Linked DNA regions of Homo sapiens. The protein of the gene in region 3 purifies or fractionates together with the protein of the main gene of each other region. This does not show direct contact. Each region holds a gene or a part of one and is shown on either strand. Other genes may lie near its edges. The genes, in order: TNFSF8, NPTN, HAUS5 and SPICE1.

The links.
Region 1: the proteins of HAUS5 (region 3) and TNFSF8 purify together in Homo sapiens (co-immunoprecipitation; one large-scale study listed by IntAct). This does not show direct contact.
Region 2: the proteins of HAUS5 (region 3) and NPTN purify together in Homo sapiens (co-immunoprecipitation; one large-scale study listed by IntAct). This does not show direct contact.
Region 4: the proteins of HAUS5 (region 3) and SPICE1 purify together in Homo sapiens (affinity purification with mass spectrometry; one large-scale study listed by BioGRID and IntAct). This does not show direct contact.

Annotation. Positions count from the first base shown.
Region 1 is NC_000009.12:114,915,174-114,923,134, reverse strand, and holds part of TNFSF8 (tumor necrosis factor ligand superfamily member 8), read left to right. Parts: intron 1-4,996; coding exon 4,997-5,039; intron 5,040-7,961.
Region 2 is NC_000015.10:73,564,937-73,572,897, reverse strand, and holds part of NPTN (neuroplastin isoform b precursor), read left to right. Parts: intron 1-2,474; coding exon 2,475-2,748; intron 2,749-3,091; coding exon of another isoform or gene 3,092-3,108; exon of another isoform or gene 3,109-3,184; intron 3,185-3,354; exon of another isoform or gene 3,355-5,960; intron 5,961-7,961. UniProt on the Homo sapiens protein: Probable homophilic and heterophilic cell adhesion molecule involved in long term potentiation at hippocampal excitatory synapses through activation of p38MAPK. May also regulate neurite outgrowth by activating the FGFR1 signaling pathway.
Region 3 is NC_000019.10:35,620,187-35,627,768, reverse strand, and holds the end of HAUS5 (HAUS augmin-like complex subunit 5), read right to left. Parts: intron 7,575-7,582; coding exon 7,442-7,574; intron 7,347-7,441; coding exon of another isoform or gene 7,330-7,346; exon of another isoform or gene 7,282-7,329; intron 5,169-7,281; coding exon 5,036-5,168; intron 4,894-5,035; coding exon 4,776-4,893; 3' UTR 2,414-4,775; downstream 1-2,413.
Region 4 is NC_000003.12:113,500,696-113,508,656, reverse strand, and holds part of SPICE1 (spindle and centriole-associated protein 1), read left to right. Parts: intron 1-2,051; coding exon 2,052-2,150; intron 2,151-5,429; coding exon 5,430-5,477; intron 5,478-7,961.

The DNA.
Region 1 (7,961 bases), on a different chromosome or scaffold from region 3:
AAACGGAACTAGATGATAAAAAGATTTGATAGAAGAGACGGAGAGGACAGGATATCACTGCCATCTTCAAACTAGAAAGATTTCCTAAGCCCATATCTGAGCCCAAATCTATACTCAGCCTCCTACAGCCATCTCTCAAGACCTCAGGTGTTCTGATTGCCTACTGAGTAGTGTATTTAAGACTTTGCTACTCAAGGTGTGGTCCATGGCCTGGCAACATTGGCATCACCTGGATGCTCATCAAAAATGCAAAACCTAAGGGCCCCTCCCTACTGAGTCAGAATCTGCTTTTACCAAAATCCCCCGATGCTGGTCAGTCTTTTAAAGTGGGAGAAGCACTGCTTTAAGCCACTGTGGTCCACTTCTCACTTTGGCAGACCATGTGCTCCCAGTAAAAATAGTCTTCCCCTGAGGATTTTCTATGACTTCTATTCACTTTTCCATGAAATTTCAGGAGATTTTTCTGCTCAGCTTTATCCTGCCCTCATCTAGAGAGGCAATGTAGCAGGACATTGAAGAGCAGTGCCTTCAAAGTCAAACACCTAAGTTTGAATCCCTTCTGTGCTATTCGCCACCTGTGGGACCTTCTATAAACATTATCACATTATGAAATCACTTCTCTAAGTCTTGATGAATCCGTAACTCTTGGGGTCAAGTTAAAGGCCAAATGAAATAGTGCATGTAGAGTAACCCTCATTAAGTGCCCAATGAATTAGCTTGAAAATAAGAGGTATCCTTGGCAAAAGTCCCTTTGGGCCATGAGCCAGAGCCCACCTTACAAGACTATGTGAGGGCAACAAGGAAAGGAATGTGGACTTCCCCTGGCATATTCCAAACAGAGCTGCCTTTGATCATTTTTGGTCCACGGGGGCATTTTGTGTCCAAAGCAAATTCAGGAGCTCATTGCATCTGCTGATCATTCCTCTGTGAAAAGAAACAAGCCTTTCAAGGTATTGAGGCAAATTAAGCACATCATTAACACCAAGGCAGTGCTCAAAATAGCTATGCTTTTCAAATACTTGCTAACACTTTATAATATCTTATGATGTCCACAATAACCCAGTGGAAAGATGGATGATTAGCCATCTAACCACTGATTAAAGGAGAAGAAAACACTCCAAGGCAAGGAAGATGGTTGGGATGGGGGTCATTTTACCTGGAGACAAACAGGTTAAACATGACCATTCCTCCCTCCATACATGAAAATAACTTTATTACTGTTGGGAATACTCATCAGACATCTACAGAGGCCAAAAACAGAGGAAGTACACTTAAGGAAGTATACCTCGTTGATAACCACGGAGACAAAGTTTCCTGAGCTACTCAGTGGAGCTGAGAATGAAAACCTGGGAGAGTCCATTTGTTTGTGCCTGCATTCAGCCTAGGCACTACCTTACACAAAGCCAAGTCATTGAGCAAGATAGTTCACATTTCCTGAGCTAGGACCCAGATCCCCAGACAAGATTAGGGAGAGAATTCTAGGACTGGGGGACATCTTGCCAAAGAGGAGTTGGTGAACAACACTTAGTGTAATACCTGTTTATGAACAGTCTTCACTGAATTTCAACAGCCATCATCTCCTTAGACATTGCTTCTCCACCTCCAAATGCAGGGACTGCTTATGGGAGAGGGGAGGAGGGAGGAATGAGCTCTTCTATCCTTTGTTTCTGGAAACAGCATCTCTCCTAGGGCAGTGGAAAGTACACCAGAGAATTTCAGTCCAAGATCTGCCTCTGACTCATGAGTGCCTTGGTTTCCTCCTCCATAAAATTAGCTTGATGGACTGAAAGATGTCTCAATCTCCCTCTGGCTTTGATTGTCTAATCTTGACTACCATGGGTAGCTAGGAGAAGCTGTAAAGACCTCATCCCAAGAGCTCTTCAAAATAGGAATAGTCACGCTTCTGTCATGGACTTCCTGGGCCCTGGGTGAAGGTTTAAATGACAGGTTTCTTTCCTGTTTGAGATGCTCTGCTTTTGACATCCCATGTCTGAAATTAGGAAACCAGAATGCATTCAAGTGACAGAGAGAAAAGAGGCTTTCCTTGACCCCCATATAAATTAGGTCCTCCTCTCTGATATTACTTCTCACAGCTGTGCTATTCAAAGTGTTCTGTGGGCCAGGAGTGTCAGTATTACTCGAAAGCTGCCAGAAATACAGAATGTTGGCCAGGTGCGGTGGCTCACGCTTGTAATCCCAGCACTTTGGGAGGCCCAGGCGGGCAGATCACAAGAGGTCAGGAGTTCAAGACCAGCCTGGTCAACATGGCGAAATCCCGTCTCTACTAAAAATACAAAAATTAGCCGGGGGTGGTGGTGGGCCCCTGTAGTCCCAGCTACTGGGGAGGCTGAGGTAGAGGAATTGCTCGAATCCAGGAGATGGAGGCTACAGTGAGCCGAGATTGCGCCACTGCACTCCAGCCTGGGTGACAGAGTGAGGCTCCATCTCAAAAAGAAAAAAATGCAGAATGTTAAACTCCCCCCAAATCTGCAGAATCAGAATTTGCATTTTAACGAGACTCCCAGGTGATTCATATGCACATTGAAGTTCTAACAGCACTACCTTAAAGCACTATGATTCTTTTCCTCCATAGCTCTTGCCACAACCTGCAATTCTAATTACACATTTATTTATATTTTTTAAATGGCTGCCTTAATGACTAAAGCATAAAATCCATAGGATGTCTTTTAGTGACTAACGTAGTTCCTACCACAGACCAGGTGCTCATTCAAGGTGTGCTGCATGAATGATTCTCTAGGACTTCCCGAACTGCTAGCAGCCTCTGCAATGATGGCTGTACCAGGTTTGCTATTCTAGCCTCTCTCACTGTCCCTGTATATGTCCCTGGGCAGCTTGATGAATTTGATGATTGTGGTAAGACATTTCAATGCAGATATTTTTCTTAGTGCATTTGCACATCATGCTAATCAATGGTCACGCTTGGCAGTAAGTTGTAAGTTGTTTATTAAATTTTAAAATGTTGTGTGTTGTCTCACAAGGGCAACATAAAGGGGAATTTTGTGATATCAAGTTTTCCTGCAAACTGCATGCATAACTGAAAGACTACAAAAACTTAGCTTTGTTAGGTTAAAAGCTTTCAACTAAGGCAACAAAGTCGTAGACTGTTACAGTAGGAAGGGCCTTCCAGGACAAGTTTGCCTCCCTTCCCCTGAGAAGGTAGGGCCCAAATGTTTAAGCTGACTTCCCCCATCTCCAGATTGGTGCTGTGCCAGGGCTTTGCCTTCAGGAGACCTCCTTGACTCACTACCAACCTCTTGCACTAGAGAAGAGATCCATTCATAAGAAAACAAGCTTTCAGCGGAAGGCAAATGACAGACCTCCCAGGGAAATGTTACAATAATAGGGGAACTCCAGATGGTCCTAGTGTTCATACAGAACACTAAGAAAATAAGCTGTGGGCGGCTGCTAATTTCTTGCTTTGGTAGAGGTTAGGAAGTTGGTTTTTTCGCATACACACGCTCACACCTCTCTAGGTCTTTACTAATATTTTAATTCAATGCAATACAGGAGATTCCAACCTGGGCAGGTCAAAAGATGAATAAAATACTTCATTCCTTATTGGCAGAATATTGTATGGGTGTCTCCATGGCTGGAGAGAAAGGGGAGGGACAATCAGGGTGTGAAACTTAGTGTCTGAAGAATTTATTAGGGGAAAAGAACTGTGCCTCTCTGCTTCTGTTAACTCCTTGTTGAGAGTCCTTGAACTAGAACCTCCCTTTAGTCACCTTCAATCCCCAGCCCAGGATTCCCTCCTTCAAAAGACAATCTGTTTCTATCAACCTCTTATTTGTGTAAATATTTATGTATATATTTATTACAGAATAAATAATATACTATGTAAATGTTTAAATATATAATATGCATTTGTATGTATACTACATGTGTATACATATTTGTATATTTAAATATAAACTTGTAATAAATCCATAAGGATGGGGACCCAATTTAATTATGTATGGTGTCCTCACAATGCTTGGCATATAAACACACAATTAATTCAGAATTTCCAACCACAGGAGACATAGAGATGTACCTTCCCAGGTATGTTTACAACATACGTTCACAGATGAATCAAACATGGAAAAAAAAAAAACACATCTACTTTTATGATATACTTGATTATTCTCATGTTGACCAGAAGGAAAAAAAAAGAAAAAAACACCCAAACATATGGAGGGGGGAAAAGCACCAGATTGGGAGTTGAGTCCTGGCTCTAGCCGAGTGTGATAGCTCACACCTGTAATCCCAGCACTTTGGGAGGCTGAGGCGGGTGGACCACAAGGTCAGGAGTTCGAGACCAACCTGGCCAATATGGTGAAACCCTGTGTCTACTAAAAATACAAAACTTAGCTGGGTGTGGTGGTGGGTGCCTGTAGTCCCAGCTACTCTGGAGACTGAGGCAGGAGAATCACCTGAACTGGGAGGCGGAGGTTGCAGTGAGCCAAGATAGTGCCACTGCACTCCAGCCTGGCAACAGAGCAAGACTCCTTTTTTTAATTAGCTGAGTGTAGTGGTGTGCACCTGTACTCCCAGCTACTCAGGAAGCTGAGGCAAGAGGATCGCTTGAACTCAGGAGGATGAAGCTGCAGTGACCCATGATCATACCACTGCACTCCAGCATGGGTGACAGAGTAAAACTTTGTCTAAAAAAAAAAAAAAAGTCCCAGCTCTGGTCCCTGATCTTCTATAAATTAACTATGTGGCCCTAGGCAAGTCATTTTATCTCACTCAACCCCGTGTCTCTTGCCTGTGGAACGGGGACAGTAATCCTCATCTTGCATTTCTAATAGATTGTCAAACAAATGGATAGAAAGCCCATTGGAAACTACATCAGTGAATTAATTTTTAAAATTCAGGTGGAGGATGAATTGTAAATTGCACAGTACTTTAAGGACAACAAAATGAAAAAGAAAAAAAAAAGTTGTTTCAACTGAATGTCACACCTCATGCTGCTTTTTTCTTTCTTTTCTTCCAGGACTCCATTCCCAACTCACCTGACAACGTCCCCCTCAAAGGAGGTAAGATCTTGGAATTAGGTGTAAATGTGTAGTAAGTCATCTAGATAAATGCCATAAAGTGTGAAACCTGATTATCAACCAGAAACAACTCTATGACATGACCCAACAGTAAAGTGGGTAGGGGTGGAGGCAAGGGCTGTTCAGGACTGAGCTGATGCACCTGAATTCATCTTAGCAGCTCCTGAACTCATCCCCACAAGTCTCCCACCAGCTCTTGACACTCCCACTAATGAAAATTCTACCTCTGGCATAGGCAGGACTGCAAGGCAGTGTTGTGTTAAATGCTTGAAACCTGAAATCAGATAAATGGGGGAATGAATCTTGGCTTGACTTCCCACTGGGGAGCCTCAACTCCTCATCTGTTAAATGGGAATAATAATAATACTCACCTCATCAAGGTATTGGAGAAGCCATTCAGATCTCATCTGTAAATTGCTTGGCATGGCAACCAGCACATAGTAATCATTAAATAACTAGTAATAGCTAAAATGCATAATGAAGTCAAGGACTTGTGAAAACAGACTTCCTCCTCACTCCTATATTTCCAATCATTGAAGTCACTAATTAACACGTCGTCTCTACTAGCCTCAGAGAGATGATATGCCGAGTTCAGTTAACATCGATGATGAGAAATTTTCAGATGACCTGATTAATGTTTTTATTGCTCAGAGAAGGAAAAGGAAGACCCAGAGAGGGAAAGTGAAGTATCTCGTCCAAGGTCATACAAAGCCAAGCCTAGAACCCAGAAAGATGTCCTCATCTCTGATACAGTGTCTTTTCTGCCCAAGAACACCAACTCCCATCTCAGTCCTGTAACCTTTAGAACCTAGATGGCAAACACAGCTGGATAGCCAGAAAGCTCAGAGCAAAAAGTAAGGAAGTGAGTTAATGTAGGCACCAGGGTAGTGGCACAAGAGTGTCCTTGAGACCAGAGGACACAGATGACTGGACACAGCTCCTCACACTCACAGCATCACACTTGGAGTGTCCTTCAAGTTTCCCTTGCCCATGCCTTTCCTGTGGTTTATCACCCAGAGACTTCAAAAATAGGGGCAAAAGTCCCCAAAAGACAGGGATTCTGGATCTTTCAAGGCAGACTAATAATCATAGCCTTGTCAACAATATCTCATTTTGGCTGGAATTACTTAGCATGTGACCTCAGTTCCTACCATGTCTATGTAAACAGTCACATTAATATTAAAAGGAGCATAGTAGAATGCAGGGGTAAGCAAACTTTTTCTACGAAGGGCCAGATAGTAAACGTTTAGGCTTTGGGGGTCACTATGTCTCTGTTGCAATTAGTCAGCTCTGCTGTTGTAGTGCTGAGCCAGGCTGACTACACGCAAATAAGTAACCACGGTTGCATTTCCATAAAACGTTATTTATCAAATGAGGTGGTGGGCTGGATTTGGCTTATGAATTGGAGGAGTCACTGCAGGCTTTGGAGACAGATGTTTCAGTTAAACATGTAATGCACGTTCACACGGAGCTTTGGAAAAACCAAAAGGCTCTGAGTGAATATAACTTGCCCCTCCCCACTCCCACTGTTCCACCACCACCTCCACCCAGACTTTCCAAGGAAGATGGAAACTTTTCATTTTTTGACAGGGAGAAGGGATTTTTAACATGAACACGGTCTCAGTGACGAGGATAGTTTTGATTAGGTAATAAGACCTTAGCCATTCTGGATCTCAGTTTCCTCGCCTAAAGAGCACTTCAATGCAAAGTCGCCAAGCATAGGGGCTCTAACTAGTATTCTGGTACCATAATAAAGTTGATAAAGTTTTCATCAGTCCAAAGTGAAGTACAAAAAATAAGGACACGGTAGCCCCCTTTTCACAGGGCCAACTATATCTAATGTAAGAGGCACTCTTCCTCTGAGACGGTCCTTCATTTTTGTGTGTCAAAATGTCCTTTTTTTACAACATGAAGTTGATATAGACAGGAGTTAAGTTGGCTTGTTTTTTGCCAGAGTTATTTTGTTTTGTTTTAATCATCACAATAGGCAAAATAAAAAGCTGTCCACTTCATATTGGTCTCTGAATTTTCATTCTGGGGAGAAATTTCCTGGGTCTATAAAGTCCAAACTTTTCACAACCATGGACGAAATCACTTATCACATTTCTTCTTATCTGGACCATGAATGGGAATATCAGAACACAAAGTAATCAAAACCAACCTCAGTTTACAATTCAATGTTTCCACAACCAGATTTTTTTAAATGCTAATAATATTCGGTTGGTGTAAAAGACATTGCAGCTTTTGCCGTTATGTTCAATGGCAAAAACCATGATTACTTTTGCACCAACTCAATAATCCCCATGGGACTGTGAAACTTTTGTTAAAGACCTTCCCATACCTCCTTTGGGTTCATTCTCACCTCAACCCTGTGAGCAAGCCACAGCAACATGGGGAATAGTCTTCCCATTTTGCAGATGATGCGCTGAGGCCTAAAGAAGCCAGGTGATTTGCCCAAGGTCATACAAGGAGTTAATGGCCAAGTGAGAATCCGGGGCTCCTCCCTCTTCTCCCTGCATGACCGGCTTCCACCATGAGATGCCAGTGACCTGCTGGAGGCAGTACCTGACTTTCTCTTGCTTTTAATGCAAGTCAACATCCCCTTAATTCAGCAATCTGCAGAGACACTGTAGTAGGGTGAGGTAGAAAAAATATTCCTGGGCTCCAGAACTGACCACATCAACAAGTCTTTTCTCCTCTCTGAGCCTCATCTGTAATATAACAGCAATGTACTAAATGCCCTGGAGGAGTCTCTCCAGCTTTGACCCTTTATGAGACTATAATTCTTTTGTACAATATGTAAAAATAGAAGAAAAAAAACCTAACAAAAATCTCAAGGAAATCTGAAGTCACAGCTTCCTTCCCCAACGAACCCAGCTTAAACAGGCACAGAAGCAGTAAATT
Region 2 (7,961 bases), on a different chromosome or scaffold from region 3:
TGATCCTGTCACCTCCCACAAGGCCCCTCCTCCAACACTGGGGATTATAATTCACCATGAAATTGGGGTGAAGACAAAATCCAAACCATATCACTTGCCTTCAGGATAGGACACTGAAAGAACCGAGCCTAATTCTCGTCCATTTATCCTGAAGAAAATACTGTTTTTGAAGTGGTCTTAGAGAACCTGCCTTGTTTTTTTAGTAGGAAACAAGGTACTGAGGGCAATTATTAGTACATTCCTGCAACACAGAACATACTGATAAGGAATTGGGGCAACCTGAGGAGGCCCAAGGTACTGAGGGCAATTACTAGTACATTCCTGCAACACAGAACATACTGATAAGGAATCGGGGCAACCTGAGGAGGCCCAAGGGCAGCCTTGGCAGCCTTAGACATTGGGAACCTGACGGTATTTGCCCCAGAAAATGTCAAAGAGAACATCTTTTCCGATCAGTGGGATGATTCATGATGTTGTTTGGAGAGTCAGAGCTTTAGAACCTCACTTTCTCTCTCATTATGATTGTTGACCCATTACCTTTTCTGTCAGAGAGCGTGTCAAGCGTTCCTCTGATCCCATGGATCCTCTTTGATTATCAGTCTTCAGAATCCAAAAGGACCTTAAAGATCATTAATCCATCTTCTTTGGAAGGGTTCCATAGTAGCCAAGATAAATTAGTGGCAAAACCAAGAGTTGTATCTAGTTTTTTTAAATTTCAAGTCCATTATTCTTCCTACTTCATGACATCTTGATAATAAAATGTTGAGTTGTGATAATGACTCCAACATCAGCGATGATTTCAGAGACCCGTTAACGAGGAGCAGGATGAGGATTGCCGAGGTGAAGATGCTGAGTCTTTTTTACAAGACACTGAACTTTCTAAGGCACTGGAGAGGAAATGTCCACTTCTCTCTGCTGGTCACTGGGAAGGAGTGCCCTTGAGCTTTTGCCAAAGCAGGTTGGAATTAACGCAGTATGTGTTTTAATCTGAAAGATGAAGCTTGAGGCATCACAGACTAGCTGTTTTAAAAGCTTACGAGTTCCCCATTTCAGATGTACCTGCACTCAAATGCTGACAAGATTGTATGCCATATCTAGAATCATTTCCAGGATAATATTCCCCTTTTTCTCTCCTATTTCTGATTGTGCTTTAGTTGTTGCAGGGTAAAGACACATGAGTCTGTTTTTTCCCTGCCGGGATCTCATGAGCTGAGTGCAGTGAGCCATCCCGCTGAGTCCCGACCTCTGCCTGTGCACTCTTGCACCTCTGCCTTCACACCCATGCGAATCCCTGCCTGCACTGCTCCTCCCTGTTTGATCAGCTGTCCTCCTCCACAGTCTAGTGCAAATGTTAGCTCATGTGTGAAGCTTTCCCTGACTCTTTCCAGCAGTGGCCACTCACTGTGCCCTACAGCACTCTATACACACGCTCTGTTGGGGCTTCTTAACACATTCCTGAAATCAGTCATCCCTTTTTGGATGTCTGGTTCCCTTTTGAGGCCAAGCTCCTTATTCATTTCTAGGTCTGTCTTCTCCCTATCTCACCTTCTCACTCCCACCTGCCCTTAGTAGGATATAAAGCATGCAGCATATTTTAGTAAATATTTGTTCTCTTTTATTTGTTTGTTTTGTTTTGTGTTAAGACAGGGTCTTGATCTGTCTACCAGGCTGGAGTGCAGCAACCTCCTGGGCTCATGTGATCCTCCTGCCTCAGCCTTCTGTGTAGCTGGGACCACAGGTGTACACCACTATGCTCAGCTAATTTTATTTTTGATTTTTTGTAGAGATGGGGTCTCAGTTTGTTGCCAAGGCCAGTCTTGAACTCCTGGGCTCAAGCGATCCTCCCACCTTAGCTTCCTAAAGTGCTGAGATTACAGGCATGAGCCTCTGTGCCCAGCCACAAATATTTGTTGATTGATTGAATAACCTTTCCTCTAACCTCTAGTCCTTAAATGAAAGGAAAGTTATGAATTTCCCCCAGTCTGACTAGGAGTGAGTTCTTAGCATTGTTTGTGGAGGAAGTTTAAGGAGACTTCCTCAGAACTCACCAAGTGTGAAGTCAGTGTGCTGACTCTGAGGTCATCAGAGAGGCCTGAGGTCCCCGAGGCATGCCTGACTGTAGGGGTTGTACCCCTCCTTCTGCCGTCCTCTTTCTGCTGTGGTTTCTTACCTGGTGTTGGAGGCAGCATTTACTAGGTTGTTGGACTTTTCTGAGTCTCCAGGCAGTAGGACCTGCACTCACTTCGTGGAAGTCGGGGAAGTCTGGAGGACCGATGGTAAGGGAGGCTTGCCTGGCTCTGTCAGAAGTTGATTTGTTGTTGTTGATACTGAAGGGAAATCATTAATGAAATGTTCCTAGACACTGCTTCCTCATTCTGGCTGGTGCCTAAAAAGAACGGAGAGCAGTGTCACCCTCTCTTGAACATTAGCTCAGTTACTCACTCTCACCTTTGTGTATTCTCACTTTTTTGCAGGACATTGTCAATACCTCTGGCCGCTTCTTCATCATCAACAAGGAAAATTACACTGAGTTGAACATTGTGAACCTGCAGATCACGGAAGACCCTGGCGAGTATGAATGTAATGCCACCAACGCCATTGGCTCCGCCTCTGTTGTCACTGTCCTCAGGGTGCGGAGCCACCTGGCCCCACTCTGGCCTTTCTTGGGAATTCTGGCTGAAATTATCATCCTTGTGGTGATCATTGTTGTGTATGAGAAGAGGAAGAGGCCAGATGAGGTTCCTGACGGTAAGAGCATCCCTACAAAATAGCTGTACTGCTGGGGTTGGTTCCTTCGGGTGGTTTCCAAGTACCCAAAGAGGACTATAGGGATGTTGGGATTCAATCCCTAAAGGAAAGAAGGAAAATTCTTATACCAGTTCCTAACCCCCTACCCGTAAGAGTTTTTTATTTTTATTTTTTATTTTTATTTTATTTTTATTTTTTTTGCATTAGCCATCTAGAGCTGTCCTTAGCTCTCTCCCTCTGTTTGGGTGTTTTCCAAACCCTAGTCCCATCTGCCTTTCAGGCCCCATGTGGTGAATGGGCAGCTGTCAGTCTCTTTGTTCAGCTCTGTCCTCCTTCAATACAGATCATCAGGCAGATTGAGCTTGAGGAGAATCCAAGTCAAGCCTAGAAGCCACCCCAAGATGGCAGGCCACCTGGCCTTTCAGGCAGATTTAAGGTATCTAACTGGTTGTCACATGGTTGCCTGGTGTAGCCCCTGTAGGTAACTGCCCCAGCCCAGTCAGACTGTTCTCAGAAAAGCCATTGGAACAAGCCAGCTTTTGGTTCCTTGGTTGGTCCCTTTGATAGGTTTCCAGCGCTCTCTGCTGGGTGGCTTTCCATCTGTGTCTCACAGACAAAGGAGAGTCTGATGTATCCACCCATCTAGTGTAAGACAGAGATAGCAAAGGCGGAACAAATGGAGTCCATGCCCCGAGGCTGTGCCCTCAAGCTGGCCTAGGGTCAGAGAAGGGAGGAGATGGTAGCAGCAGAACCACAGCACACCACTGAGCACTGGAAAGAGCAAGAGCTGAAATCTTAGGTTATTGGATATGCCTAGAGTCAGAAAAGCCTTGGGAAATTTTTGGTGATCGATTTTTCCTGTGAAGGGGGAAGCTGCTGATGGAGACTTGTATCTGCAGTACTTCAGGTTCCCAGCTGGCTCCCCATCCCCACCCTATAACATGACCGGCGTACAGAAATTAATTGGCCGACTGTTACCACCACTAGTCTGTCCCTGGCTAGACTAGACAGATGGGTGTGCCCCTGGGCTCAGTGGTAGCCTACCCGGGGTGATGGTGGGGTTGCCAGCTGTAGTCCAGCTGTTCTGGGGCCTGTGTTTGTGCACCTGTGGTGCTGTATCCTGCCCCACAGAGCTGGCTGTCCAGTGGAGAATACAAAGTGACATCTGGTGCTCCCTCAGAAAGAATGTGGCCCCAGAGGCATGCCAGTGGCTTTAGACTCTCTGGGAGGACATGTTTGAGAGCAACAGCCCCTTCCCCATCTTTTCCTTTCTTCTCAGCAGTTATAAATCTCTCTGCCTGCAGTAAGTAGAGTGAGTGGCTGGTGAGGAGGTTTGTTGATGACACTGACAATATCTGGTGACTCCCTCCAGATGTGCACTCAGCAGTGAGCTGGGCAGAGGCGTGGGAAGGACGTTGGCTGGGAGCAGACGGCCTCTGCAAATGAATCTCTAGTTTCCTGCAACCTGGGAGTGTCCCCATGAGTTTTACTTTCCTACTTTATGAAGTGAACCTGCTTTCTTTGGGATTTCATGTACTCCTAATGCTTTTTCTCTCCAGGTATTTCTTTCCTGCTACATATTAGGACTCCCAAGGCAAGAGTGCACCTTTATTTAGACCTGGGAGTAAAGGGAAAGAGTTGCCTGTCTTTCGTGTGTTTTCAGCTTTGGCTCTGTGGGATCAGTTATGCCTCATTCCTGAAAAGGGCCTTTTTATCCCCCCAGAATGCTTTTGCTTTGCCAATACCACCTTCCTCAGCCTGCCTTTTGGAAAGGTTGAGAAGCTAAAAAGTCAGGTAAGAGAAGGCAGAGATGGACTTCAGAACCTGATTTTTAAATTTTAAGGCAAGGCTGGCTGCCACTGGTGAGAGTGATGCAGCAGCCTAGCGTGTTCCCAGCAGAGGTCTAGTCTTTGCCCTAAGAAGTCACCGCGCTTATGAGGTTGCTATCACAGTGCATGTGGTAGGTTAGATTTGAGAAATGGTTAGGATTGTTCTGTTGGATAAGTGCAGACACCTGCCCAGGGAAGCAGCTCTTTTTTTGTAAGAGTTTTCTTGGTTACTGAAATCAAATGGGGGACCAGTTTGTTATAGGAGACATCTGTGGCCAGCAAATCTGAACAGCTTCCTAGAGGGAAAGTACCTCTTTTAAACTAAGTTATTATAGACAGTGAATGAATCCTACCCTTAAAAGAGATGACGGCAGGGTAAGTGCAAAGTAAAACCTCCTTGCTCTAGTCTCTTGGGAGAGTATTGTAATGAAAGCAGCGTTTACTTCGTTGTTGTTGCATTGGGGTGAAAAATCTGAGATGCTGGAATGATGGCAATGTTTGCCTTCTCTCCTTCCCTTCCTGACAGCCAGTGTGGGCCAGGCTCCACTCTCCATCTTCACACCCTGCCCTTGCTCCAGTATTTCCATTCTGTTTTTCTCCTCTGTCTCTTTCTGTCTTTCTCTCAAACTCCATCCTGCTTCCACCCCTGCCCGCTTTTCTTCTCCTTTCCTGGAAGTAATCATTAAACAAAAGAAAAAGTTGAATGTTCTTTGGTGAGTTTCCTTCTTCTCTGCCTTTTCCTTCTTTAGCCAGTTCCCCTCAACCCCTGTGCACTCCATAGGAAGGACAAACTTACCTGTCTGCTTCCTTCCCATGTGCTTCTCCCCAAATTTTCATATAGATATATACGTACACTCCTTTTGGAATAAACGAAGAGGTACATTATATTTGACACAAACTTGGGAGTGTTAAGAGGTCATAAGTGTTTACCTATCAGATAACCATCTGTGGCTCTGTGTTGGATTTTTTTTATACCATTAGGAAAATGGGAATTTTTTTATAGGCCTGCCATACTTCTACTTTGCCAAATAGCACTTTATTATCAAGATACACCCATGGCTCATTTCAGACTCACTGAACTTTTTTTATATGAATGCACAGTCGTCATATTTTGGGCAGTCTGTGAGTTCTTGGTAACTCATCCCCTTACTACAAAAGCACTAAGTGAACAATACAAAAGTATAAAAGCACAAATTTGAACTTACATAGTTTAGTTTAAGTATGTTTCACTAGAAAATCAAATATTTAGATTTCTCACATTGAAAATGCTTAGGATTGAGGTTTAGCTGCTTCCTTTAAAAAAAAAAAAAAAAAAAAAGCCCCATGTCTTTTTTCTTTACCTACTGGAGTATTCTCAGACCATTTCCTACATGAAAACACCCACCTGCATTCCTTTAGTCCCCTGTATGGTCTCTTTGAGGATCAGTGCCCACTAGGTTGTCTTGTAGGTGGACTAATCTACAGATCACCTTTACCTTCAGTATTTTCAGGAACAAGTGAATCATGGAGTCAAATAAGAGCTTTGTTTTGTTCACTTGACTCACCACTTGACTGTATTCCCTGAAAATGTTAAATGATAGTTCTCTAAAAAGACCAGGTCAAGCTAGCAGCCTCTAGGCTTCCATCCATGTCACAGCTGGGCACCTGCTTGGGTGCACCTTCTGTGTTGGTGTCCTGCGGACTGCACTCCAGGAGCAGTCAGCCTGTGCTCCTGAGTCTCCCCTCCCCAGGCCCTGGAGGAATGGGGAGTGAACCCACTTAGTTGCTGAGGCCTGCAGTTCTTCTGGATATTTTAGTGACCTCACAGACAGCAAATTAAAACAGGAGCTGATTTAAGAAAAGAAGTGCTGGTACCAAAAAAGAACTTTCTGTTTTTACCTTGGGATAATTTTTTATAAGCAAGTCAAAGGGACTCTCTTTAAGTTACTGATGGAGAAGATATTTGAGGTTTTTTGGGGGGCCATTTTTAGTGGCTCTGATATATCCAAGCTCTTTTAGACACTTTAGAATGAAGAGCTGTTCTAATGTTCCAAAATCTATTCGTTGGTCAAAACATTTGGTAGCATATGAAGCTTTATACAGACTAGGGATATTGGAAAAGAAATGTGACTTTTAAAATGACACCTAAAACATGCATTCGGTGTCTGGTCTGTTAACTAGGGGCCATCTGGGTCAATAACAAGTTACCTCATGGAGAAAATGCAATAGGACCAAACAAGGAAGGAAATAGGAAGTAACTCAGTCTCTCTTGGGTTTAATGCTAACCTGCTAAGGTCAGGCAAAATTTAAGTGGATTTAGAAACCATAAAACCTTCTAGTGAGATGAATGCAGTGACAAAGGACCTTTGACCAGAGAGTCAACTCTTCATTATTCGGACTTTAAAGCCATCTTTTTGGAGGTGATATTGTATTAGGCAATCCGTTATTTACTAGACATTGCAGAGCACCCCTTCTAGATGATGAGGCGGATATAGGGGGAGTGAGGGCTGTGGTCCATTCGGTTGGGAAGATGGAACACGCAGATAAATCAGTGTGTGCTACAGTTCCACCGGTAACTTCACTCTCATAAGGTGGATTCCAGAAGCATCTTGTTTCCATTATCCCCCCAGTCCTCTTCCTCTCATCTAGCCAGTGGCTGTAATACTGAGGTGGAGAGAACAGTCATTGTTTAAGCTGGCTATCTTTTGGCCTGAGGGTTTGGGGTATGTTGATATTTGTCGGTTACTATGACTTCTTTTTTTTCCCCCCTCAATTGCATCAAACCCTTAAAACATGGTGGTAAGTGAGCGATATGCATGCTTTTGGAGTTTGTTTAATCTCCGCTTCAGTCTATACGATGCACAGTTCATAATGTTAACACTTTTCTTCAAGTTTACTTCATTCACTTTCACAACTAATTTGGATTTCAGTTTGCTGTTTAATCCTCATTTACTTTGGTTTCTGTATCTTTTTTCTGTAATTCTGTTCTTTCCCTCTCCCCTGACTTCCCTGTTAGGGGTCAAGTCGTTTTTTTGTCTGACCTGTAGGGGAGAGTGGTGCTGCAGATAGTGATTCAGTCCAGGAGAGTGGGGAGACATGAGGCTCTTTTGTTTGTCAGTGTGAAAGTGGATTTGGGGAGACAGATGAAGAGGGCTCCTGGGATTTTGCCCCCTTGTGAATCTCAACTGCTCCCACTTGCAGGCATGGCAGCTATGCCGGAGGCACTGTCGCTAAAACACCTCCATGCAACCCTTTGCATGTTACCAGCTTGTTGGGCTGGAAAGTGACATTACTAATCAGACACCAGGGAATACCCACACTCCAAAAGGAAAAACAGCCCGTGGTGTGAGGTGCTTGGGTTGGTGCCTACAGTGTCATGCTTTGAAAAGATTAGCCTGGCTATTG
Region 3 (7,582 bases):
TGGAGTATGTTAAAGCAAATTCCAGACATCAACTCAGTCATAAATGCGCCATTATGTCTCCTTAACAGATAAGAACTATTTTTTTTTTTTTGAGACGGAGTCTCGCTCTGTCGCCCAGGCTGGAGTGCAGTGGCGCGATCTCGGCCCGGCCGATAAGAACTATTTTTAAAAAATACCATTAACGCTGGGCTCAGTGGCTCACACCTGTAATCCCAGCACTCTGGGAGGTCGAGGTGGGCGGATCACCTGAGGTCAGGGGTTTGAAACCCGCCTGGCCAACATGGTGAAACCCTGTCTCTACTAAAAATACGAAAATTAGCCGGCCGTGGTGGCGTGCGCCTGTGGTTCCAGCTACTCGGGAGGCTGAGGCAGGAGAATTGTTTGAACCCGGGAGACAGAGGTTGCAGTGAGCCGAGATCGCGTCACTGCACTCCAGCCTGGGCGATAGAGTGAAACTCAGTGTCAAGAAAAAAAAAATACCATTAACTATGCCATTATGAATACCATCAAATTAATTTCTTAGTATCATCTAACACCCAGACCGTGTTCAGTTTTCCTTGTCTCAAAAATGTCTTTATACGATAGTAGAATCAGGATCAAAACAAGGTCCAAATATTGCATTTGATTGTCTTTTTTTTTTCCTGTCAAAACTTAAATTTTTGCTTGCTCAGATGTTTACCAACAAGAAAAACTTAGAGGCCAGGCGAGGTGGCTCACACCTGTAATCCCAGCACTTTGGGAGGCCAAGGCGGGTGAATCACGAGGTCAGGAGTTCAAGACCAGCCTGGCTAACGTGGTGAAACCCCGTCTCTACTAAAAATACAAACATTAGCTGGGCGTGGTGGCGAGCGCCTGTAATCCGAGCTACTTGGGAGGCTGAGGCAGGAGAATCGCTTGAACCCGGGAGGCGGAGGTTGCAGTGAGCCAAGATTGTGCCACTGCACTCCAGTGACAGTGCGAGACTCCGTGTCAAAAAAAAAAAAAAGAAAATTTAATTTTATTGGCTGCCTTGGTTTCTTGAAGCTGCAGTATGAATCAGTACAAATGAATACCTGCCTGCCTGCCATCTTTCTTTCTTTCCTTCCTTCCTCCCTTCTTCCCTCCCTCCCTTTCTTCTTTCTTTCTCCATTCCCCCTTTTGCCTTCTCTTTATTGAAGAAACTGGATCATTTATCCTATAGGGTGTCACACATTTTGAATTTAACTAATTACATCCTTTTTGTTTCACTTGTTTCTGACTGCCTTCTGCCCCTTTCCCATATGCTTGTAGTGAGAGCTAAGGCTAGATGAGATTTAGGTTTAATTTGGTAAAAGCACACTTCATAGATAATATTGTATGGTATCATATCCCTTGTATCCTATTGGATCCCATCAGAAGCACAAGATGTCTGGTTGCCTTCCTTTGGCATCAGGATTGATCAGTGGTGTCATCCTGGTCTACCTATTTTAAGAAGCCCAATCAACCTTTCCCCTAATAGTTTTAGTAGCCCTTGATCATCATTACCTGTATCCATCACTAGATTAATTAATAGCAAATAGTGGTTTTTGAATTCTAGTATTTTCTCTGAAGTTATTAGTTGTGATTCTTCCATAAATAACCTCTTCATCAGAAATTTGGTTACTTAGGCTGGGCACAGTGGCTCACACCTATAATCCCAGCACTTTGGGAGGCTGAGGCGGGCAGATTACCTGAAGTCAGAAGTTTGAGACCAGCCTGGCCAACATGGCAAAACCCCGCCTCTAATAAAAATACAAAAATTAGCCTGGCATGGTGGCGCGCACCTGTAATCCCAGCTACTCAGGAGGCTGAAGCACGAGAATCACTTGAACCCAGGAGGCGGAGGTTGCAGTGAGCCAAAATCTCACCATTGCACTCTAGCCTGGGTGACAGCACAAGACCCTGTCTCAAAAAAAAAAAAAAAAAAAAGTTGGTTACTTGTTCACATATAAGAAAAATAGAGAACATGCTGGATTATTTTATATATAAAAAATTTTTCAAAATAATGAGTGGGTTCCTAGTACTCTTCAAAGGTGATTTCAATGAGGTATATGAGTATCAACATGAACTTACACATTCAGGCATATTTGATGTGCTTCAAACCACTGTGGTTCTTTTTGCTGCTCAACATGTCCCACCTTTGGTGAGTGACAGCCCTTCAGACTGGCTCCTGAGTTCCTTTGACTTGGCCACAGTAGTCTTGGAGGACTCTTTGCTTCCTGGCACAAAATATCCTGGACACATTTTGCACATTTCTTGCCCCAGACCTGGAATCAGCTGTTTTCACAAAAGTCCCTAGTTCTTAGTCAGAAATGGCACTTATAGAGACCACAGTCTGTATACTAGTGCTGCTCAGTGTTACTGGGGTGTCATTATATTTAGACCTTTTCAGGGGACTTAACTAGGGAAATACATATTTTTTAGAAAGAGAAAAATCATGACTTTATTCTGATATTTCCAATTCATGTGAAAGACTACAGGGTGTTTACTTGAGTTTATATTTGTTATCTTTTTTCATTTACACTAAAAATCTTGGTCCCCAATGACATTACATCACTACTTATTTGCTTTAGTATATAATTCAAAAAATATAAGGTAGAATCTCAAAAATTTAAACGGTCTATTTTATCAAAATAAAAATGCCAGTGTTATTACTAACAATGTGACTACTGTATGAAGTTGAAGATTTTGTTGAGTTCAGTTGAAGGTGGGGGCTGGGAACTGTGATGAGGAGAGAGAGGAGGAGCAGACACACTAAGGACTACATGGGAAAGCCAATGTGGAAAGGCTGGGAAACAGCAGCCAGGGGCAGGAGGAAAGCTGGGAGAGTAAAGGGACTCTGGAGGCCAAGAGAGGAGTTGTGTGAGAGATGGACAGCAAGGTTCAAGATCATAAAGCTGCCAAACTTCCAAATTTGAAAACTTACTGCAACACCAGTAAAACTACCATCTGTGCATGTTTTTCTTCTGGGGCCAGCCAAATTAAATCTAATGTTCACTTAGTTTGGGAAAAAAAATTTACTGAGACAGGGGAAACTAATCCCAGCAGGTGAAGATTTGGGAGGCAGAGGCGATAGAATCACTTGAGGCCAGGAGTTGGAGAGCAGCCTGACCAACATGGTAAAGCTCCGACTCTACAAAAAATACAAATATTAGCCAGATATGGTGGTGGGTGCCTGTAATCCCAGCTATTCAGGAGGCTGAGACATGAGAATTGTTTGAATCCAGGAGGCAGAGGTTGCAGTGAGCTGAGTTCATGCCACTGCACTTCAGCCTGGGAAACAGCCAGATTCTGTCTCAAAAAAAGAAAGAAAGAAAGAAAAAGAAAAGCACCTAAGAGAATCCAGCCATTTCAGATATGGCAATGTGGTCAGGCGCGGTGGCTCATGCCTGTAATCCCAGCACTTTGGGAGGCCGAGGCAGGCAGATCACTTGAGGTCAGGAGTTCGAGACCAGTCTGGCCAACATGATGAAACCCCGTCCCTACTAAAAGTACAAAAATGAGCTGGGCGTGGTGGTGCGTACCTGTAATCCTAGCTACTGGGGAAGCTGAGGCATGAGAATGGCTTGAACCTGGGAGGCGGAGGTTGCAGTGAGCTGAGATCATGCCACTGCACTCCAACTTGGGCAACAGAATGAGACTGCATCTCAAAAAAAAAAAAAAAAAAAACAAAAGAAAACAAGAACAGATATGACAATGTGTCACAAGCCTTTCTATTAAGCTACTGTAGGAATGACACATGGAGAGTTAAATACAAAGCAGGTCTGGAGAGAAGCCAGATATAACCCAATTAAACATGGAAATTTAGTGCATAAAAAGGTGGCATCTCAAAAGTGTAAGGGCTTTGCTTTATAAATTGAGTAACCCACGCAGTGAAATGCACAGGCCTTAAGACTACAACTACATGAGCTCTGACAAATCTCTACACCTGCGTCACCGCCGCTGCTCTTGACACAGCACATTCCCATCAGCTAGGACATTTCTGTGTCTCCTCCTCAGTTGATCCCTGCCACCCACCTTCCCTCAGAGGCAACTGCCACTCTGACTGGGAATTTCAGTAAGTGCTACTAGGATATATGTAAAATAAGACAAAATTGGATCCATGTGCTAGGATAAATTCCAAATGGCTGATTTACATGTAAAAAAAGAAACTATACAAACTAGAAGGCAATCTCATCTTTTAATACATTCCTCACCCCCAACCTACACTGTCCCCCTCAGTGGCCCTTATTGCAGCACATCCTGGCTCAGGGCCTTTGCATGTGCTGTTGCCTCCAGCTGCAAGCCCTTACTCAGCCACCCCTGTTGCTCCTGCTCACCCCTTGACGGAGCACGACCTGGGCAGTGTGGCCCTCAATTCAAATCACACATCCCACCCCCTGCTGGATTTCCCACACAGCAGTTAACTTGCAGCATACTACATATATATTTTCCTTATCTTGTAAACTCTGTCTCCCTGCCCTAGAACTCAACTGCTGGAAGACAGGGTTTTCTGTTTCTTTTGTTCAGTGTGGACTCCCCAGCGCCTAGAGGAGGTGCTCAATTACTTTTTGCTGAGAATGAAAGTGATGAAGGGGTTTTAGGGGGTGCTTTAGCGGGATGAAAGGACAGGGTCCAGGAGCTGAGTGGGGCAGCAGAACAGCACATGAGGGGACTGCAGGTGCGGGTGGGGACGACTGCCGAGGAATCCTGGCGCTGCTTTCTTCCAAATGTCCTGGGGGAGGTGAGGTGTTGGGGTGAACAGTGTCAAGTTCTCGGCTTCCGTTTGAACCCTCTCTTCAGCTGCACAGCTTCTGCAGGGCCCCCTGGGCCTGAACCCAGCGCAGCCGCCACTGGGGCAGGGACAGGCCCTGGCAGAGCTCCTCAGAGAGGGCGGCCTGGCCTGGCTGCTCCCACCTGGGGAATGGCATGGCGTCAACGAGGAAAGGACTGACCCTCCAGACCCTCCCTGCAAAACCATGGCCTGCTCCTTCTCATCAGGCCCCCAGCTTGAGTCCTGACTTTTCTGTTTCCCATCCGCGGCACGTTCCCCTCTCACCAGTCCCCCACGATCCCCTGCAGCTCAGGGATTCGCTCCAGTGCCTGTTTCAGTAGCTTCTCCAGCCTCTTCAGAGCCTGCCCCAGGTTCTCTTTCTGCTGTTTTTCCTGGGATGCCTGGATCTGCAGCAGCTCTGAGGGTGAGAAAGCCAGGAGGCAGCTTTGAGTCCTCTGGCTCGCTGGTACCTTACAGCAATGAGTCCCCAATTCTCCAGTCCCCTAGTCTTGACCTCAGCAGCTCCCGCAAACCAATGATGAGTCTGTCTCCTTCTCTTCCCAGCCTGGAAGTCCCCTTCTGAGGGACTGCCCTTGAGATGAGGACCTGTCCCTCCTCCCAGATCCTCATCTCAAGGGCAGTCCACCACCCCCAGCCCCATCCAGGCCTCCTTCTGGATGCCTTCCTCCCTCCCCGTGAGAGCCCATCAATCTCCATGGCCTGTCCGCTCAGTCTCCTGAGCGTTTCTTCCTCTCCTCTGCTCCAGGCCTCAGTCTCCTGCTCTGGTTCACCCTCCGCACTACACCACAGTGATCTTCCTGAAGCCTAAATTTGATGCTCTCCCTCCTGTCTAGAACCCTCCAAGGTTCTCCAGTGCCCCCAAGGCAGAGTCCAAGCCCTTCAGCAGGTATTTGAGTTTCATGATGTGGCAAAGCCTGGCCGATTCCCAGGGCCCACAGTAGAGAGTATCTTTCCTCCTGGAGGCCCCTCCAACACTCTCGCTCCAAGGCTTCCTCCTCCGCCTGCTCTAGCTTCACCCTAGCGGTGCTTTCCTCTGGGACTGGGACTGGGCCTACCTCTCCATGTGCACAGAACAGGCCCAGCTCAGCAAGTGCAGACGAGCAGCGTGATCAGACAAGCTGGGCCTGAATCCTGACCCCATCCCATCCCTGCCCTGTGACCTTGATCACGACACTGGCTCTTTGTTCAGCTCCGTCTGCTGTCAGGTGGAATTACTGGGGCAGGGGACCGATGGGAGAACTCTGGGGATGGGACCCTTAGGGCTTGCTGAGAGGCTGAAGCTGGTGAGGGTGGGGGGATTAGGGTGATGGAGAAATTCAGGATGACTCCTGGGTTTCTGGGTGCAGCACTTGGATGAGGAGGGTGAGATAATTTAACAAGGAAGGAAACCAAGAAGAGGAACAAAATTGTTTTTTGGAGTAGAGAGAACCAGGAGTTCCATGATAGATGTGTACAGTTCAAGATGCCCATGATTATAAGAAATATAAAATTAGCTGGGTGTGGGGTGCATGCCTGTGGTCCCAGCTACTCGGGAGGCTGAGGCAGGAGGATGGCTTGAGCCCAGGAGGTTGAGGCTGCAGTAAGCCAGGATGGCACCACTGCACTCCAGCCTGAGTGACAGAATGAGACCTTGTCTCAAAAAAACAAAAGCAAAAACAAAAAACACATGAGGTGGGCAGAGGGCGTGGTAGGCAGAGGCTGAGGTGGGCAGAGGCCGTGTGGGGTCTGGGGCTGCTCTCATTGCTCCTGCACACTGTTCCCTCCCCTTGTGAAGAAGTGGAGGGCAGGGAGCCCCAAACTCAGAGGCTTGAACAGTCTCTTCCTCCAGTGCTGCTGGCACTGCCGGTTCATTTCTCATCAATTCTCCTCTTCCATGTATTTATCCTTTCATTCTTTACTCTTTACTTCCATCTGGGGAAACCCCTGGGGTGGGGACCTTTCTCCTCACTCCCCATCAAGCCATCTGGGCTGGCACCTGGTAGACACCCAGTATTTGGTGAGTGAATCCAGGAATGAATGACTTCTCTAACCTTCAGTTTCCTCATCTGTAAACTGGGGTTCTTAAAAGTCCCTTTCCTCATCGTCATGACTCCAAGAGACTGTGTGTGTACACAGACAATGATGCTAATCACATTGGAGACACAGGGTGCTTACTGCATAGCAGGCAGTGTTCAGTGCCCTGTGTGGGTCCCCTGCCTCAATCTGCCCAGCACCTCGGTAAGATATTGCTTCATGCTTACTCCACTGAGGAGGAAGCTAAGGCACGGGGAGGCCACACAGCTAGGAAGAGACGGCAGAGAGGATTCCCAGGCTTTGAACTGCTGAGGTATACTATGTGACGGTGATGAATGAACACGTGGAAAGTCGACGGCAGTGTAGCTTAGTGGTTGGGAGCACAGACCCATTTCAGACCACCTGGATTCAAATTCCAGCTTTGCCATTTGGGCAACCTACTAACCTCTGCGTCTCAGTTCCCTTCTCTGTAGAATGGAGAGAACAGCAGCACTTACCTTATGGGACTGCCGTGCAGATGAAACAAGGGAGAATGTTTAAAGCCCTTAGCACACAATGGGCACTGCGTAAACAACGGGGTTGCTGGTAAGGACTCGTGGAGGCTGCTGGTAGTGGGAATGGGCGGGGAGGCTGGATGGGGTGGCAGGGCAGACCTACCCTGGGTGGGAAGGCCTGGCGGCAGGCTGGTCTTCATGTGGAGTAGATCCCAGCACCAGAGGCTCCGCTGGTCCTGCAGGAGCAGAAGGTCCTGGCGAAGAGAGGCAGCCGCCGGCAGGAGCAGCTCCGAGGCCTGGAGGA
Region 4 (7,961 bases), on a different chromosome or scaffold from region 3:
GAGCAATATGTGAGGATTCTAGTTTTTCCATATTTTTGTCAGTGCTTGTTGTTGTCCGTCTTTTTGATTATAGCCATCCTAGTCGGTGTGAGGTGGTATCTTGATTGGCATTTCCCTAATGACTAATTATGTTGAACATCTTTTCATGTGTTTATTAGCTGTCTATAGTATCTTCCTTGGAGGAATGTCTATTCAAGTCCTATGCCCATTTTTAAATCGGATTTTTTAAATTGTCGAGTTGTAAAATTTCTTTATATAGTCTGGATTCAAGTCCTTTATCAGATAGAGGATTTGCAGATACTTTCTCCCATTCTATTGGTTGTCTTCATTTTCTTGATTGTGCCTTCGAAGCACAAAAATTCTTAATTTTGATTACGTCCAATTTATTTTTTTCTTTGGTTGCTTGTGCTTTTTGTGTCATTTCTAAGAAACCATTGCTTAACCCACGGCTCACGAAGATTTACTCTTATGTTTTCTTCTAAGAATTTTGTAGTTTTAGCTCTTATATTTAAATCCATGAATCAATTTAATTTTTGAATATGGTGTGAGGTAGGAGTCCAACTTCATTCTTTTTCATATGCGTATCCAGTTGTCCCAGCACCATCTGTTGAAAAGACTATTCTTTCCCCGTTGAATTGTCTTGGCACCCATGTTGAAAAACTGACCATAAATGTAAGGGTTTGTTTTAGACTCTTTGTTCTATTATATTCTGTATCTTTTTAAATGGTACTTATGGCTCTGCTACTTACTAATTGTGTGACCTTCATGGTTGGTTAACTTTTGTCTCTCAGTTTTCTCGTTTGTAAAATGAGGAATAAATAGTAAGTACCTCATGGGGTTATTGTGAGGATTCAAGAAAATAATGTTTAAAGAGCTTAGAATAGCATCTGGCTTATAGTAAGCACACGGTATCTGTTAGCTGATGCCATCATTACCACCGTGGCTATCATCATCATTACCATCATAAAACTTAAATGTTATTTTCTAACTTGTATGTGACTTGTTTTCTTTGGCTGAAATTGTAAATGCTGAAATTAGATACCATGTTTAAGGAGTGAATGTTCTTGTTAAGAGAGAGTACAGAGTGCAAGGAAGATTGAGGGCAAACTCTTAAGAAATACTTGTATTTAGACATTTTTATTATAGTAGACAATGATTTTTTTTTAAAAAAAAGTACTTAAGGAAAATACTAGAGTCCTTGTTTTAGACTAATTGGGAGTAAGGGGGTCAGCTGGAAAGTCCTGTAATTATTTAGGTAGGTTAAAAGTGTCTGCAATAGTAGTCATGTATATGTATTGCTTTTTAAAAGTCATATATATGTATTGTAAAATCCTGGTGTTCGGGGACTATGGGTCTTTTTCTAATTTGGTGTAATGTGTAGTCTAGTGTGCTTAGCATTGCTGTTTAAACAGTGGCAAACTAATGTTGGCAATTTAAAAATTCTAGTTTAAAATCAATAATTATTAATTTGTTTATCAGCAATAGAAAAAAATCAATAATTAGCACCATTTAGCATTATGTGACAGATATATTAGAAGTGATATCATACCTCATTTGTTCTCTAAAGTTTAGCTACTTTTATTTTCAAGTAAGCCCATATGTACCTGGTAGTGATTTTGAGTGTTAGAGTGCTTAAAAAAGAACTCCAACTCTCTTTTGCCCTTTCTTCCCTTCACCTTACATTCATATTGTTAGCTTGTGACTGGGCTATTTTCTACTAATTGTAAATTTGTGTAACTGATGACAAAGCTTATGACGAATGTCTTAGTTCTCGGCTTTAGGCCATAATTTCTGCATTCCTAGAGTTCTTTTTTAATCAAATATATAAGTTATTGACTTGAGACCTCTTTTATTATAATTATCAGTACCAACATTTATTAGTTGTAAAATAAAAGAACTAAGTATTTTGATAGGCTGTTCCTTTCATCATGCTTAAATTTTTCTTCTGGCATTTTAAAATTTGTTTTTTTTTTCAGGTGTCTTCCCCCACTCTGGTGATGCTTATTGTTTTTTCTTGTATTTTAAAAATTTGATGTGATTATTATTCCTAGATGTCATTTGTCAGAGTGAACCGCTGTGGTCCCCGAGTTGGTGTAAGAAAGACACCGAAAGTAAAGAAGAAGAAAACTTCAGTGAAACAAGAATGGGATGTGAGTATAGGTGGGATAGTAAATAATGTAACATTACTCTGGAGAAATGGACACAGTGATATGGCCCTAGTCATGCAAGATGGTGTTCTGAATGGGGCTCATCACGTAATAGGGTGGAATAGGTTTCTGGGCATGTGATATTCTAGGTCTTGGAGGGAAAAGCAGAATCCTTTGGGGGAGGTTTTTAGAATACACACATCCAGGCTGTAACCTCTATATCCTCTGAAGAATTGGAATCCTAAGGGGATGGGGAGCATATTTTAAAAAACGTCTTTTCACTTTGACTCTGAGAACTCACTGCATAAAGGCAACTCTAGCTCACTGGTGTCAATGAAGTCTGTGAATTTTTCGGTACCTTTTTTAGGTTTGCTCAGAGCAACCAGTGATATCATAACCATGTGAGTGCCAGTTTTGGCTGAAAAAAATAGGTGACCTTTGCTCTCTTATCCCATGAATTGCTCAATTCCAGAGGTTGATCGGTTTCAGAACAAATGTTCTCTTGTGGTATAAGACAAGGCTGAAGTACCTGTAACATGTGATGTATGGCTCCTAACCTGAATATTGCCTGGTGTTACCAAGGGGATTTATATCTTTTTTTTAAGAGACAGGGTCATGTCCTGTCACCCAGGCTGGAGTGATGTGATGCCATCATAGCTCACTGCAGCCTTAAACTCCTGGACTCCAGCAATCCTCCTGCCTTAGCCTCCTGAGTAGCTAGGACCAGAGGCATGCACCACCACCCCTGGCTAACTTAAAAAAAATATTTTTTGTAGAGACAGGTCCTTGCTGTGTTGCCCAGGTTGGTCTTAAACTCCTAGCCTCAAGCGATCCTCGTGCCTTCGCTTCCCAAAGTGCTGGGATTATAGGCGAGCCATTGCACCCAGCTAGATTTCTCTTTTGTGACCTGATACTTTGGTTTGGACCATGAGACTTTAGGTGTCTTTACTTTCCATTGTGAAGAGTAACTAGTTAGGGATTAGTTTGGATCTCAGGGATTCTTTTGGACTTGGAATCTTCTTGTTTGCAACCTACCATGTTAGCCAGATATCCTGGGCAAACTGACAGCCTTTGAAGTGGGGCAGCGGGACTTCTCTGTGTTTAGATTGTTTTGTTGCTGTCTGATTGGCTATAAAATTTTAATAACAAGGATGTGACTCTAAGGTAAGGAAACTGATAAATCGGAAAAAAAAAATATGTGATAACATATTTTCCCCTTCAGAGTGGTTACTTTGAGAAGTTTAGTACAGTTGACCTTTGAACAACATGAGTTTGAGCTGCACGGGTTCATTTACGCATGAATTTTTTTTCAATAAATACAGTTGGCTGTATCCTGGGGTTCCACCTCTACAACGAAAGGTGGATTGAAAATACAGTGTTTTCAGGATGTAAAACCCAGATATGGAGAGCCAATTAGGTGGGATTTGAGTATGTGTGGATTTTGGTATATGTGGGTGTCCTGGATACTGTGGGATGACTGCATTTATTCCAATATGCCACTATTGCTTAAAACTTAATTGAAATCTATCATTTGAAATTGCATTAAGAACCTTCCTCATTTTATCTGCAGTGCTGGAAAAATCTTTTGTTTTTTGAAGGTAGACTGAACTTGGAAAATAGTCATAAGTCATTTGGAGTAAATGGTAAATGATGGAGAAGAGATCAAACTGATTATTACTGTCTTGATAAAAATAGTGAAACATTTTCTGAAATGGCTTGTAGATTAGATTTAAATGGAATGTCAAAAGAAAATGGTTTTAAGCAATGGTTTTAGTATTGATGGAATTATTATTTTCTTCCATGAGAACAAATTTCAAGCCTATCACTTACTTGTATGCCTGAGTTTTTAAATGCCTATTAAAAACAATTCTCATGATCCTGTAGTTGTACCTTGTACCTTTCTTTTCCTTTTCCCTTTTTTTTTTTTTTTTTTTTTTTGAGACAAGGTCTTGCTATGTTGCCCAGGCTGGCCTCAGACTCCTGGGCTCATGATGAGATCTTCCTGCCTCGGCCTCCTGAACCTCCTGGGTAGCTGAGACTACAAGCGCACACCACCATGCCTGGCTCTTGTACCTTTCTAAATCATTGTAAAAGTAATAACAGTTTTCATACAGAAAAGCCTTGAGCCAAATATAAATCATGGCCAAAAAGTTTAGTCTTTGATCAGAAGCCATTTTTGACTGTTCGTATTCCTCGTCACTTAGAAGTAAAACTAACTTGTTTTATTTCCTGCCTTACCAAATCTGTGTAGCAAAATGGCTGAAGTTGCTTTGGAAAGGGCCAAGTTACAGGGTTGCTACTTAGAGCTGTGCAGCCTGTGTACCACACAATTTCAAGGGGTGCTATTTACACGGACTCTGATATTAATGGTAACTTATGGAGTTGTGCAGGGTGGTAGCCCTGCCATGATAGTTTAGTGCCTTTTAATTTAACTGACTGTTTTTACATTTTATGAAATTATGCATTGCCCTCAAATTTCATCTTCCATTGTAGTAGCATCTATGCTTAAGATGTTTGCAGACACAAATTGAACCTCTCTATAGTGATCACACTTTCTTTTTTTTTTTTTTTTTTTTTTAGATAGAAACTCGCTTTGTTGCTGAGGCTGGAGTGCAGTGGCACAATCTTGGCTCACTGCAGACTCCACCTCCTAGGTTCAAGTGATTCTCCTGCCTCAGCCTCCTGAGTAGCTGGAATTACAGGTGCCCGCCACCAGGTCTGGCTAATTTTTGTATTTTTAGTAGAGATGGAGTTTTGCCATGTTGGCCTGGCTGTTCTCGAACTCCTGAGCTCAGGTGGTCCACCCACCTCAGCCTCCCAAAGTGCTGGGATTACAGGCATGAGCCACTGTACCCAGCCAGTGATCTCACTTTCTTTTAGGAACCTTTAGCGTTACGTTGTGGAATCCTGGGATTCCATAGACTACAGTGTGAAAACTAAAACTTTAGTTAAACTTACTCATTTTGAATATATACTACCATTTATTCATATATCATATATTCATTTTGAGTATTTTCATTGTTTTACTATAGTGTATGACTGCTTGGTGAATACAGTACTTATTTTCTGTAAGACATCTAAAATTAGTCTGTTATTTTCTATAAATAGGACACCTAAAACTAATATGTGTTCATATCTAAATTGAGAATACTGGTTCCTAGAAAGAAAGAATTTTTGGTCCTAGGATTTTGAAACCATTTTAGCCATTAAAATCCAATAAATGTGTATATTTTATAAGAAAACTTTTTTTTTTTTTTAAAGAAAGGCCACCTTTTTTTACAGAATACCGTGACTGATCTAACCGTTCATCGGGCAACTCCCGAAGATCTGGTGAGTTTAATATCAAAACTTAAGTCATTTATTCAGTGTTTTATTTGGTATTTGACTTGTAACCTTTAGAATAGAAACTATAGGCACTTCCTGGAAGTTGTTCAGTTATGTTTAATCTTGTTTATGTCTATATAAAATCAAAACGCCTATCTTCTGGACTTCCTGATTTGAGCTAGGAATATCAATTAGTATGTATTAGAGTTTCATTAAATATGTTGGGTTTATAGTTGAAATCTCTTCAGTCTAGTACTGCCTGATATATATCTATCTATCTGCCTTTTTAAAAAATCTATAGATATCTTCAGCATTATTTATTACTTCCCTATACAAACATATTGTTCTAGTCAGTGTAATAATTTCTGTGTATTTCCATGTCTGAGCCCCCATTCCTTACTTGGAACAGTTTCTGTACCTTCTTCTCTACCCGTTCAAATCTTACCTTACTTCCTTATCCTAGTTCAAATCCTACTTTTTTTTTTTATGTTTCCACTTAGGTTTTTTTTTTTTTTTTTTTTTTAAGATTTATTGAGATATAGTTCACATACCATGAAATTTACCTGTTTAAAGTGTGCAGTTTGGTGATTTTTGGTATATTCAGAGTTGTGCAACCATTGTCACTATCTAATTTTGGAATGTTTTCATTACCCCAAAATGAAACCCTCTACCCATTAACAGTCACTCCTTGTGCCCAGTTCTTCCCAGTTTGTGGCAATGACCAATGTACTTTGTGCTTTTATGTATTTGCCTATTCTGGTCGTTTGATATATGCGGAATACAACACGTGGCCTTTTGTGTCTAGCTTCTTTGTCTTAGCATAATATTTTCAAGGTTCATCCCTGTTGTAGCATGTATGTCTCTGCCCACTGCAGCCTCCACCTCCTGTGATCAAGCCATCTCCACCTCAGCATCTTGAGTACTTGGGACTACAGGTGCATGCCACCACGCCTGGCTAAGTTTTGTATTTTTTGTAGACACAGGGTTTTGCCGTCTTGCCCAGGCTGGTCTCGAACTCCTGGGCTCAAGGAATCTGCCCACCTCAGCCTCCCAAAGTGCTGGTATTATAGGCATGAGCCACCACGCCCAGCTCATAGTAGTTCTTTATTCCTTATAATTGCCAAATAATATTCCATTGTATGGATCTACCATTTTATTTATCTGTTGTTCAGTTGGTGGACATTGCATTGTTTCTGCTTTTGCATTGTTAGGTATAATGCTGCTGTGAACATTCATGTACAAGTTTTTGTGTGAACATGTATTATCAGTTCTTTTATATGTATACATCTAGGAGTAAAATTGCTGAGTCATATAATTTCTCCATATTTAACTTTCTAAATAATTGTCAAACTGTTCTATGAAGTGGCTGCACCATTTACATCCCCGCCAGCATGTATGAGGCTTCCAGTTTCCTCACATTGTTACTGTCACCTTTTTCATTTTAGTTCTCTTAGTAGGTGTAAAGTGCTGTCTCATTGTGGTTTCAATTTGCATTTCCCTAATTGATAAAGGATGTTAAGCATCCTTTTGTGTACTTTTCGGCCATTTCTACTATATTCTTTGGAGAAATGTCTATTCAAATACCTTAGTCATTTAAAAATTGGATTATTTGTGCTTTTATTGTTGAGTTATAAAAATTATGTATGTATTCTGGATTTGAGTTCCTAATCAGATATAATTTGCAAGTATTTTCTCCCATTTTCTTAGTTGTTTTTTCAGTTTCTTGATGGTGTCCTTTAAGCAGGGAAGTTTTTAATTTTGATGAAGTCAAATTTACCTGTTTTTTATTTTGTCACTTGAGTTTTTAGTATCATACCTAAGAAACTGTTACCTAACCCAAGGTTCACAAAGACATACTCCTATGTTTTCTTCTAAGAGTTTTATAGTTGTAGTTCTTATATGTAGAACTATGATTCATTTTAAGTTAATTTTTCTGTATGGTGTGTGGTGGGAGGGGGGCCCAACTTTATTTTTTGCTAAAGGATAATCATTGTCCAAACAGCATTTATTGGAAAGACTATTCTTTCCCCATTGAATGATCTTGGAACTCTTGTTGAAAAATCACTTGTCCATAAATATAAATGTTTATTCAGCACTCTCAATTCTATTTCACTGATTTATATGTCAATCCTTATGCCAGTACCACATTGTCTTGATTACTGTCGTTTTATAGTAAGTTTGAAGTCCTGTTTTTGAAACTGACCAACAGTTATCTCCTCTGAACTATTACTACCTAACTTAGGCATTGAGTATATGACATCTAATGTATATCATTTGTCTTTATAAGGATGTGCCCAATCTCAATGGGCAGATTGTTAATGCTTTTGAGAGATACAGACCATATCTTATACATCTTTGTGTACCCAGGAGTCTTAATCCTAGTAGGTGCTCATTAACTATTTACTGAGAATAATAATTATGCCCAACTGAGTTAATATTTTTTAAATGAAAAATTTCAAACTCAAGGGAAAATGGAGATAAAAATAGAAA